Linked DNA regions of Homo sapiens. The protein of the gene in region 2 interacts with the protein of the main gene of each other region in a biochemical or structural test. Each region holds a gene or a part of one and is shown on either strand. Other genes may lie near its edges.

Region 1 (3,658 bases), on a different chromosome or scaffold from region 2:
CTATTCATCATTGCAGTAAATTCTTGTAGAGCGCATTTGGATTATTCCACACCTCTAAAATTGAATCATAGTGCTCCCAGGGTGTATTGTTCTTCTGTAAAGATACTTCTACATATTTATAACTCAAAATACCAATTAGCATCTCACCCTTTCCTCCAAGAAAGTCACTTACTCTGATGTAGAACTCTGAATTGTGTGAACCATACAATACCAAACACCTGGGGAGAAAAATTTACTGTTGATTGCTCTGAGAAAATTGCCTCTCCTGTAGAATAAGATCATGGTAAATTCTGTCCAAAAAAAAAAAAAAAGATTTTATGAATAGAGTCTGATCCCAGCAGACAATAGAATGCAGAAGGTGTTCTTTAGCCACACCTAGAAGATCTTGGGCTTAAAATTAAAGTCAGGCATCTGTAATACCTACCAATTTCAAAACTACCATCAATAACTCCCACCAGTGAAGAAGGGATATCAAACCTTCTCTCTATCTGAGTGATGGTGCTCTTCAGATAGCCTTCTGCCAATGCTTTGGCAAAGTAAACAAAAGACAAGGCACACAAGAACACCTGGAAAATATGACAGGTCACACTTAGTCTGACTCCAGCTTGACACACAATTGGAAACTAAGTAAATAGACAAACAAATACAAAACAAACAACAAAGAACAATGTATAATATCAACTTTATTATCACTGAAACTTTAATTCAAACACTGTTCGAGGTTTCCATCAGCCTTAAGCACTGTAAGTTTTCAACAGTTCAAATTCTCTTGGAATTTAAAATATATATTTGGTTTTTATGCGAAATGTGTATTGAATTATCTTTTGTCTTCTTCCACTCTGCTCCAGAGGGGCACTCAAAGGAGTCTTACATTGAAGAGTCAGTGTATGGTGAGACATTCATTGGTAAGAAAGTAAATGAAACCATAAGCCAAACACTTGACATCCTATAACAAGTCCAGCACTTGGGATTATGTATTTCACAGGGTGGTGCATGCACCAGCCGGGAACATAATGTACAGACTGAAAAAGTGCAACTATTATTCCTTGTGTTTATGTTTATACTTATTAAATTCATAGTCAAATATTTTTCTCAATGGAAAACATGTCTTTGATATCTAGCTTATATATTTTGATAGACATGGGTCTGTGATAGAACATTCATAGGGAAGGTTAGCATTTATATGAAAAAAGCAGAGATTTGTTGAGTGAATATTTGTATAAAGAAAGAATAGGAGCACACAAAGCATCCCTTAAGAAACAACTATTCTCGGGGGATTGGGGGAGCGGGGAGGGACAGCATTAGGAGATATACCTAATGTAAATGACGAGTTAACGGGTGCAGCACACCAACATGGCACATGTATACGTATGTAACAAACCTGCACGTGTGCACATGTACCCTAGAACTTAAAGTATAATAATTAAAAAATAATTAAAAAAAAGAAACTTCTATCACTAAATAGCAAAGAAAAATAGCATGATTTTAACAATGGGCAAATAATCTAAATAGACATTACTTAAAAGAAGGCATGGCCAACAGGTATATGAAAAAGGTGCTCAACATCACTAGTCATTATGGAGATGCAAATAAAAATCTTTATGACATATCACTTCACATCTGTTGGCTATAACAAAAAATAAAAACTGGTTAGAATGTAAAGAAAAGGGAATCTTTGTACATGGTTAGTGGTTACATAAGTTGATGTAGTCTCTTTGGAAAATATAATAGTATGGAGGTTCCTCAAAAAACTAAAAACTATTGTTTGATACAACAATCCTAAAAAAAAAAAAAAGCAACTCTTCTCCCTACTCTGTAACATTATTCCCATTTTTATTTGCAAAATGGGAGTAATGTGATGTTTCACAAATTAAATGTTATATCTGTGCTTGGCTTAATATCTGGCACATGGCAGAAGTTCAATAAATACTAGTTTCTACTATTTCTCTCTTTTCTGTTTGGGGGGGCATTTAAATGAGCCCAGGAAAGTAATTTAACCCACATGGTCAGGTAGAGATTGCTTGCACCGCCTGGCAAGGTGTGGTTTTAGTAAATTGCATCTAAGATCTTTTTTTTTTTTTAAAGGAGAAAACAATTCTCATTCTAACTTCATTATATAGATGATATCTGGACAGAAAACTAAGAGCATCAACACTATTTACTTCTTGGTTGCTCTACCTTTAGTTCACCACAGCATGGTTGCTTTTCTTCTGAGGAGGGATATTCTGTTTTAAAAGAAGGCCTTCCAACAGGTTGCACTGAAGTTTTGCAGAACAACTGGATATTTTCTTTGGATGAAGTGTCCATTATAAACACATTCCTTGACTCTGATCTGTCAAAGTTAGTTTTTAAAGTAAAAATAAATAAATACTACGCAATTTATTAAATTTTTTTATTCAACAGTATACCACAATTCTATAGACGCAATTTAAAGTGAATCTACCTTTTGTTGTCACAGTAAGTTGGCAAATGTTTTCAATTAAAATCAACCAGGATATCTGATTAACTAATCCTGCTATTGGAACTCTGTAGCCAGCATTCTTTCTCAATCTGCCCAGTTTAAGCCTCATTATGGCAAAGAATAAATTTAAGTGTTGCCTTTGGAATAAATAATGAGGCAGAATTTTGCTAACTTTGTGGTCTTGCCAGTTTAAACTAGGAGCAAGCAGGAAAGGAAGAAGAGGAATTCAACTATTTGAATATTGATTCATTAGGATAAAGTCTTTAAAGCCTTTAAATCTATCTTCTTAGCAAAACAAATAGAAGTTTTACATTCATTATAGGTCCCTGTACCACCTTATGATTCCTGTAGCACCCAATGTGAGCCTTAAAATATGACAAAAAAGAAGAGGTCCAATTTGTGTATTGTTTTTGTTTGATAAATAAGGGAGCAACATGATTTGTGCCTTAGATTTAATTCAGGTGAAAGAACAGTCTTTGATCAGCCTTAAAGTAAAAAAGACAGCCTTGCTTCCCATGCTCAATTTCCCACCGCCCCTCACAGGACAGGATCACACACTGAACCTATTTTCTCCCTGTTCACATCAATATTTACATATCCTGTGCCCCTACTTCTTTAGGATTCCACATGGCTCAGTGCCTGCCTGATAATCTAACCTAAATCAAGGAATTCAACAAACAAAGTATTTCTCAATCTCCCTAATATTATCAGATGACCCAATTGTACATTAATAGAGGACTTCTATATCCACATAATAGGAGTGGAATAATGTTATTCCTAAAGGAATAATGTTAGGAGTCAAATTTCATGTATTGTGGCAGAAATCTATTCTGACTGAGTATATCACCTTGACTTTATGCAATGCTTGTTTTGTGTTCACTAAACCTCATCCCTCACCATTTCAATTCATACTTTCTCAAACTGAAAAATCAAGTAATAGTATAAACGATTTGCTTTGTATTAATAATATGAAGTTAAAACATCAGAGGACTTCAACAATTTAAAAATTAAGTGGATTCCTCTAGGGAGTGGGAATTGACTAAAGGAAAGGATGAGACAAGGGTCTGGTTTCAAAAAAATTATTATTAGGCTTTTGGATTCATTTTATAAGCATTCATAACTTTAATTTTTTAATTGAAAAAGAAGAGTGAGTGAAAGAGAAAAATTTAAAAACAAAAAATAAGCAAAACAAAGAGC
Region 2 (3,658 bases):
AACTTCTTTGCCTTGTTGTATTTCTTTTCCAAGGCCTGATACTGGCTTTGAGTCTCTTTGAGATGCTCATTCACTGTGTGGCATAATGTTTGGGCCTCAATCCAGTAGCTTTCCAACTTCAACATTCTTTCCTTATTCTCTTCTATGTTTTGTTGGAGTTGGGTTTTTTCTAGTTCCCACCTCACTTTCTCATTTTCTGCTGCCTGCAGCTGGAGAAAGCAAACGTCAAGGCAAAGATAATTTGGCCACTTTTGTGGCAAAAATCTCTCATTTTTATAGCATGTTGTAGATCAAGTTCTATTATCATAAACAATCACTGAATCCACTTGAGATGAGAAAAGCAGGTATTATTTTTATAATTCCACAGATGATAAAATGGAAGCCTTGAAAAGTGAAATGATTTGTCCAAGGTCACACATTTGATAAGTGATAAAACATGGATTGGATTCCACCTCACACGATATTTCCATCACACCAGGTGATCTGAAATTCTGTGAGCAGTAAAAGATGTTTCAGAGTTTGATATATCCAACGAATGTCAACATGTTTTGAGAGTTTTTAAAAAATATATAATTATATATAAAAAATTAACTAAAAAGGGAGTGGAGAGGGCCAGGGAGGAGAGAGGAGTTAGAAGCACAGTATGGCTTAATGGTTAAGAGGGGATCTCTGGAGTCATTCAGCATGGATTTGAATCCCAGTTCTGTCATTATTGGCCATTAAACCTTGGACATGTAATTGAAGTTCTCCAAGACTCAATTACATCATCCATACAACAGAATTGTGATATAACACATCAGAATGCTTGAAATAGCTCCTTGGGCATAAGAATCATCTGATAAACATTAACCACTTTCACTCTGCTTTTAACCCTTTTGGTGATCTTATTTCATTCTTTATTTCAAGGAACATGAACATATTCTATAGCTCATTATTTTACATGTAGTGTAATGAATTTCTCAAGCTTTATAAACCTCAATTCCCATAAAAATATAAAAGATAGTGTAAGTAAAAGTATAAATTTTTGCTTGGTTAATTTAATTCCCTCCCACGGAACAGAAAGCCATAACCAGCTTTTTGTTTTTCTGCTTCTAGGGACTCTTAGGAATAGATAGTAAACTAGTCTAATACCCTCATTTCTACAGAAATCCAATACTGATCATTTAGGTGAGGGCTCAAAAGTCATTCCCAATAACTCTCTGGCCTTCAAACTGGTACTTTATCTACTTTATATGCCTTCTTTAAAGTTCAAAAGGATGCAAAGTCATTATAAACTATCAATGTTCAAAATCATATAGCACTTAGCAAAAGTAAACATGTATTTATATACACACACATCTATGTTTTTGCAAATATTTTTAACTAAACACATTTGCAAAACAGTTTACAAAGTTAGAAAGCATCCAAAACAATGTCAAGATTAGGAATTCTATTATCAAAATGAATAATAAAGAATCATAATAAAGTGCTAATCTGTGGATATTACATGCCAATATAATGATGAAAAAATATAAAATGCTAATTTATAGTATTTTCTAAGTTAAATGTCTATAGTCTAATACATAAGCGCCATTAAAACACAATCACAGGGAAAAAGAGATCTTTTTAAAACAACAATTTAAAAAATCTTCAATTCTTTCTATGTCAAGAGACAATGACAATTTAAAACAGGAATAGGTTATTTACTGCATCTTTTATTAAGCAATGTTTTGTATCAAGTTGTTTATTTAGCAACCGCCACTAATTTAAAATTATTATTCACGGAGCTGGACTAACACCGTGAATGATGTATAGTCGTATTTTGACTAAAGAGCTGCAGAGTGAATTAGCTGAGAATAGCATTTAACCAAAATAGCCTTGCTAATTCATCTCCATTTAAAACACACGGAGAAACCAAAACAAGTGTTCAATGTGAACAACAAAAGAGATCATTAGTGGTAGTGGTGGTGGTGATTGGGGGCGGGGGAGGGTAATTATGTTTTAATTTTTAAAAGACCATTGAAACAATAAAGAATATTGCTTTAAAAGTAATTTAAAATATATTTTTAAATCTTTGAAATTGTATATTTGATAAAACTAAACAAAATTGCTAGAATTGTGTCTCATACGAGTGCCTTAAAGTTTGTCAATGAAAATATATAGACTAATAATACATACTCCCTTTTATCAAGACCTTTTCTCCCCCACAAATTTAAATTATGTGAACCAAACAACTAAAAATTTCCAGTAGTACCTGGCACTTAAATTATGCATGTATTAAGTTTATAAGATTTAATTATTAGAAATTAGAAATGGTTTATAAAACATTGATGTGCTATACTAAATTTGTTCCTACAAATGATTAAATCTATTTATAATAAGGTAAGTGAAGAGGAGATATAGTAGCTTTGCTTAAGGAATTAGTAATCAAAACATACTTTGCATACTTGAACCATTAAAAATATTACTTTTTAAGGAAATCTCAGAGGCCACATATGTGCAAATACATAAATATATATATCTAAAATATTGTGTTATTTGCACTGAGGGGGATGTGGGTGTTTGCTCTCACTGGCAGGTTTGTCTACGTACCTGACAGTGAAAATGAATCTATCACATTTGCATTCTTTCAAATATACAGGGACAAAACCTTTAGTCCTAGGATTGGATTTATTCATAGTATCTGAAGTTTAAAAAGTAAAATTCAAACACCATGTTTCGGTGCTTACCTTGGTCTTCAATTTTTGAATCTCTGCTTCTGTAACTGCATGTTTGATTTGCAACTGAAAATTGAAAAGAAAGAAAAAATCTGAACTAAGAAAGTGTATCTATATTTGTAAAGCCTCAGCAGCTACAAGAATGCCTTATTACATAGTAAAAGGCCTAGAAAAGTGCTGCAGTGCAGCAAGTTGTAAATTAAAGTGTCTACTGTGTGAAATGACACTGGGTGCAAACTAATTAAACACAGTTTATGGTCTATACTCCCTAACATCAGATTAGGTTACCAATTTAATTGCTCAGGGACCAAGAGAAGAAAACACTTTTTATTGCCCTCTTTGCAGCTCTTCCTTTATGATTTGAGCGTCAAGGAACTGTTTCCTTGCTAAGTCTAGCTAACTGAACGGCATACACAGGCAAGTGAGCTGATAGTGTGATTTAATTCCAAACCTGGACGTGTGAAGATTTATTCCAAATCTGCAAGAAAGGTGGCGCTATGGTCCTGTGAGTTGCAAGCACATTCTGATCAGCAGCTCCACTGCAAAGGGAGAGAGGAGGAGGACTGCAGTTGCACGGGGAAATCTCTGATACATATTTTTTTCTTTTAATTGCAGGAAAGGTACAGATCCAGATTTCTGTCCTCCAAAAGATCTGCTCCTTTTGAAGACTCAGACCCCCAACAGCTTCTGCCACAGCTTATTAGCAATAAGAGTCACAGTTTACATTTGTTTTGCTTGTCCCTCCCCCCGCTTTGTTTTCTTTGTAAGGGAAGAAGAAGGAACTGAACGAATCATTCGTTTCCTTAGGGGATCAATAAATACTCCCAAATTTAAGAAAAACAACTTATGGGTTCACAATTTCTTGTCTGAAATCCTTGGGGCCAGATGTTTTTGGAAGTCAGCATTCTTCCAACTTCAGAAAAGTAGTTACGATGTATCTTCTACAAATTGCTTATTATCCA
Region 3 (3,658 bases), on a different chromosome or scaffold from region 2:
GTATTTCTAAGAATCTTAACATTCCTTCATACCTGTATTACTTTACCTGTTAGAAATGTTTGAAAATGGGGCTGGGTGCCTGTAATCCCAGAACTCTGAGACTGGCCTGGGCAACAAAGTAAGATTCTGTGTCTACCAATTTTTTTTAATTAGTGGTGCATGCCTGTGGTCCCAGCTACTTGTGAGGCTGAGGTAGAAGGATCACTTGAGCCCAGAAGGTTGAGGCTGCAGGTGAGCCATGTTCATGCCACTGCACTCCAACCGGGTGACAGAGCCAGACCCTGCCTCCAAAAAAAAAAAAAATTAATTAAAAAAAATTAAAAATGCATGGCATTGGAATGTATACTCTTTTAAAAGTAATAAACGTGGAGAATAAGGAAGAAAAAGACCTACTAGATGCAACTATCTTCCCCACTAATCCTGACTCTTAATGTGGCTTTGTCTCTAGACTCAATTTAAATAATGTATTAAATCCCAACGAATCTTCATCTTGGATTTAGATATTTACCAGAAAAGCTCCAGGTCTGCATTCAGATAGCAAAATAAAAACACCTCTGGGCTACTTCTTCAAACTGTCAGTTTCCCTTACTTGCTGAACTTAATTCAGAGAAAACAAACACCTAATCTCTGAATCAGTTAAAAAATATGCCACGACCTTATGTCTCCTCTAGTATCTCATCCAGAAGAATCAAGGAGATAAAATATTCCTCGGGTGATCTCCCCCACTCCCCAACATGCTCTTTTTTCTAACAAGTCTAGCTGCACATCCACACAAAACACCTTCCCTACAGAAGTGGAGGTTGTCGGCAACAACTGACACTTCTTTCCAACCACCTAACCTTTAGGTTGCTGGGTCAGAATTAAACAATTTAATCAGTAAAGAGGCCTTAAACAACCTGGCAGCTCATCAAAAAGTTAAACATAGGGCTACCATATGACCTAGAAATCTCACTCCCAGCTATATACCCAACGGAATTGAAAGTATATGCCCACAAAAAAAAACTTCTACACAAATGTTGATAGCAGCACTACAAGTATTCACAATAGCCGAAAGAAAACAAAATGTCCATCAACTGATGAATGAATTAAAAATGTGGTGTATACATACAATGGAATATTATTCAGCCATAAAAGGAATAAAGTACTGATACATACTACAACAAAGATGAATGTTAAAAACATTAAAAGAAACCAGTCACAAAAGACAACATATTGTATGATTTCACTTGCATGAAACGTCCAGAATAGGCAAATCTAAGAGACAAAAAAAAGTAGATTAGTGGGGGCCGGGAGGGAATGGAGAGAAATGGGGTGTCTGCTACCGGGAACAGGGTTTTTTGGGGGGTATATGTGTTTGAAAATATTATACAGTTCACTGTGGTGATGGCTGCACAACTCTATAGTATACTAAAAATCATATCCTCTAAATAGGCAAACTGTATGGTATGTGAATTATATCTGGATAAAGCTGTCATTTTAAAATGGAGGGCTTTAATATGCTTTCATTAATCGATTTCATTTTTCAAATCCATTCATTTTTTTTAACCTTCAAAAGGACACTACAGGCTGGGCGCAGCACCTCGCACCTGTAATCCCAACACTTTGGGAAGCCAAGGCTGGAGGATTGCTTGAGCACAAGGGTTCAAGACCAGACTGGGCAACCAACATAGGGAGACCCCGTCTCTACCAAAATAAAAAAAATTAGCCAGCCAAGGTGTCATGTGCCTGTGGTCCCATCCACTAGGGAGGTTGAGGCAGAAGGATCGATTGAGACCAGGAAGTCGAGGCTGCAGTGAGCCATGATCAAGCCACTGCATTCCAGCCTGTCTTGAATAGGAAAAGTTAAAAGTGTAGTCTGTCAGCCTAACTAAATCTTAAGAGTACTATACCTGTTTCACAAGAAAGAAAAGGGAGATACGCACTAAGAGATCACAAGCAGTGTCACAAATTCAGACATCTGACAGGTCAAAGTTAAATGAAAAATGAATTTAAAAAACAAAACAGGTACAAACACATCCCACGATTTTCATAAAACTGTAAGTGGGCCAAAAATGTAACACAATCACATTTTGCTATGGAACTTTACACAGTGCTAATATTCTACAACTCATATTGTAATAGTCAAGTTCAGCTTCGTGGTAATATGTTAAAAAATACTTTAAGAAAAACTTTTCTATCACACAGCAAATCGCTTTTCGGTATTTTTGAAGACATTTCAATGACAAGGGAAAATGTTCATGATGTAATACTACATGAAAAATTAACTCATAAAGCTATGTAAAGAATATTCTAATGATGTAAAGCATGTGAATTTTACAAAGTATGTTAAGTATCTTTAAACAAAAATATATCAAAATTTCAACAACGGTTATCTCTGGATTGTGGAATTACAGGGGACTTCTTGAAAGAATGCTGCCCTTTCATAATCAGGAAAAAGCAAATTCTAAACAGTTTCATATTATCACATATATGACACATAATAGACATACTATATCAACTGGCACATCCCAGTTTTTAAATACCTGGATCAAGACTGTGGTTGGGAACAGAGCTGGCACTCTTATTCACCCAGCAGCAGTTTTCCATACTAACCTCCTCCCAAATGCATTAGATTCTACTCATTCCACTTCACTTCCTCCAAAATAAACTTAGCACTTATAGTTTGAATGAAGTTCCCCAGATGATTCTGCTATACTCCCATTTCCCACCCCTCTTTGAGAACCACTCATCTAAGTAAGAAGCTTTTACCGGATTTTCCAGAATACTCATACAAACTAGCTTCAATTTAAATGATCAAAACACTATGGTAAGCCACAAGAATGTGGCCAACAGGGTCACTACAGGGGATAAAGTAGAAGTCTTTGGTTTTTAGTTCTAAGCAAAAGTTAATCCAAGAAAACATACCGAAAGAATATGCACCGTCCAAATAATAAAATCAATATTTCTGTTTTACATTAAATGGCATGTTTGTATTAAAATGACCTAAAGGACTCTTTGAAAATATCATATCAAGGTCAGGCGCGGTGGCACATGCCTGTAATCCCAGCACTTTGGGAGGCCGAGGCGGGTGGATCACTTGAGGATGGAAAGTTCGAGACCAGCCAGGCCAACATGGTGAAACTACTAAAAATACAAAATTAGCCGGGGCGTGGTGGCATGCTGTAGTCCCAGCTACTTGGGAAGCTGAGGCAGAATAATCGCTTGGACCTGCAGGGGCAGAGGTTGCAGTGAGCCAACATCACCCCACCGCACTCCAGCCTGGGTGACAAGCGCAAAACTCCGTCTCAAAAAAACAAAAAACAAAAAAAACTTATCAATAATACGCCCACCTAAAAAAGAAAAACAAAAAGCAACTCATAAAATGTAGTCACCAGAAGTGTGTATAGCTGATCTGCGATTTAATACAGTAAAAAAGAAAAAACAATCAGGAATATGTTGTGGGGCTACAATCAGCATTTTAAAATGAGATCAGGTCCTGCTGAATGTTTTCCCCTAATGCAGAGAAATTCTTGCCAAATTTTTACTTACACGTTCATTTGACACTAAAAACACTAACCATAGTTATTCTTGCTAGGCAGCTTTACAAAATATCACTAACTAGCATCTAATATCACTGAAAATCCAGGTGGACAAAATTTTCTTTGAAGATTAAAAATAA

Evidence for each region.
Region 1: the proteins of PPP1R9A (region 2) and SLCO1C1 interact in a test that uses a peptide from one of them, tested with the Homo sapiens proteins (one large-scale study listed by IntAct).
Region 3: the proteins of PPP1R9A (region 2) and PPP1CB interact in far-western blotting, tested with the Homo sapiens proteins (one study listed by BioGRID).

The regions. Positions count from the first base shown.
Region 1 is NC_000012.12:20,698,226-20,701,883, reverse strand, and holds part of SLCO1C1 (solute carrier organic anion transporter family member 1C1), read right to left. Parts: intron 2,333-3,658; 5' UTR 2,308-2,332; coding exon 2,179-2,307; intron 567-2,178; coding exon 425-566; intron 1-424. UniProt on the Homo sapiens protein: Mediates the Na(+)-independent high affinity transport of organic anions such as the thyroid hormones L-thyroxine (T4), L-thyroxine sulfate (T4S), and 3,3',5'-triiodo-L-thyronine (reverse T3, rT3) at the plasma membrane.
Region 2 is NC_000007.14:95,246,577-95,250,234, reverse strand, and holds part of PPP1R9A (neurabin-1), read right to left. Parts: coding exon of another isoform or gene 3,624-3,658; exon of another isoform or gene 3,253-3,623; intron 3,236-3,252; coding exon of another isoform or gene 3,148-3,235; intron 2,763-3,147; coding exon 2,709-2,762; intron 210-2,708; coding exon 1-209. UniProt on the Homo sapiens protein: Binds to actin filaments (F-actin) and shows cross-linking activity. Binds along the sides of the F-actin. May be involved in neurite formation. Inhibits protein phosphatase 1-alpha activity.
Region 3 is NC_000002.12:28,754,694-28,758,351, reverse strand, and holds part of PPP1CB (serine/threonine-protein phosphatase PP1-beta catalytic subunit), read right to left. Parts: intron 1-3,658. UniProt on the Homo sapiens protein: Protein phosphatase that associates with over 200 regulatory proteins to form highly specific holoenzymes which dephosphorylate hundreds of biological targets.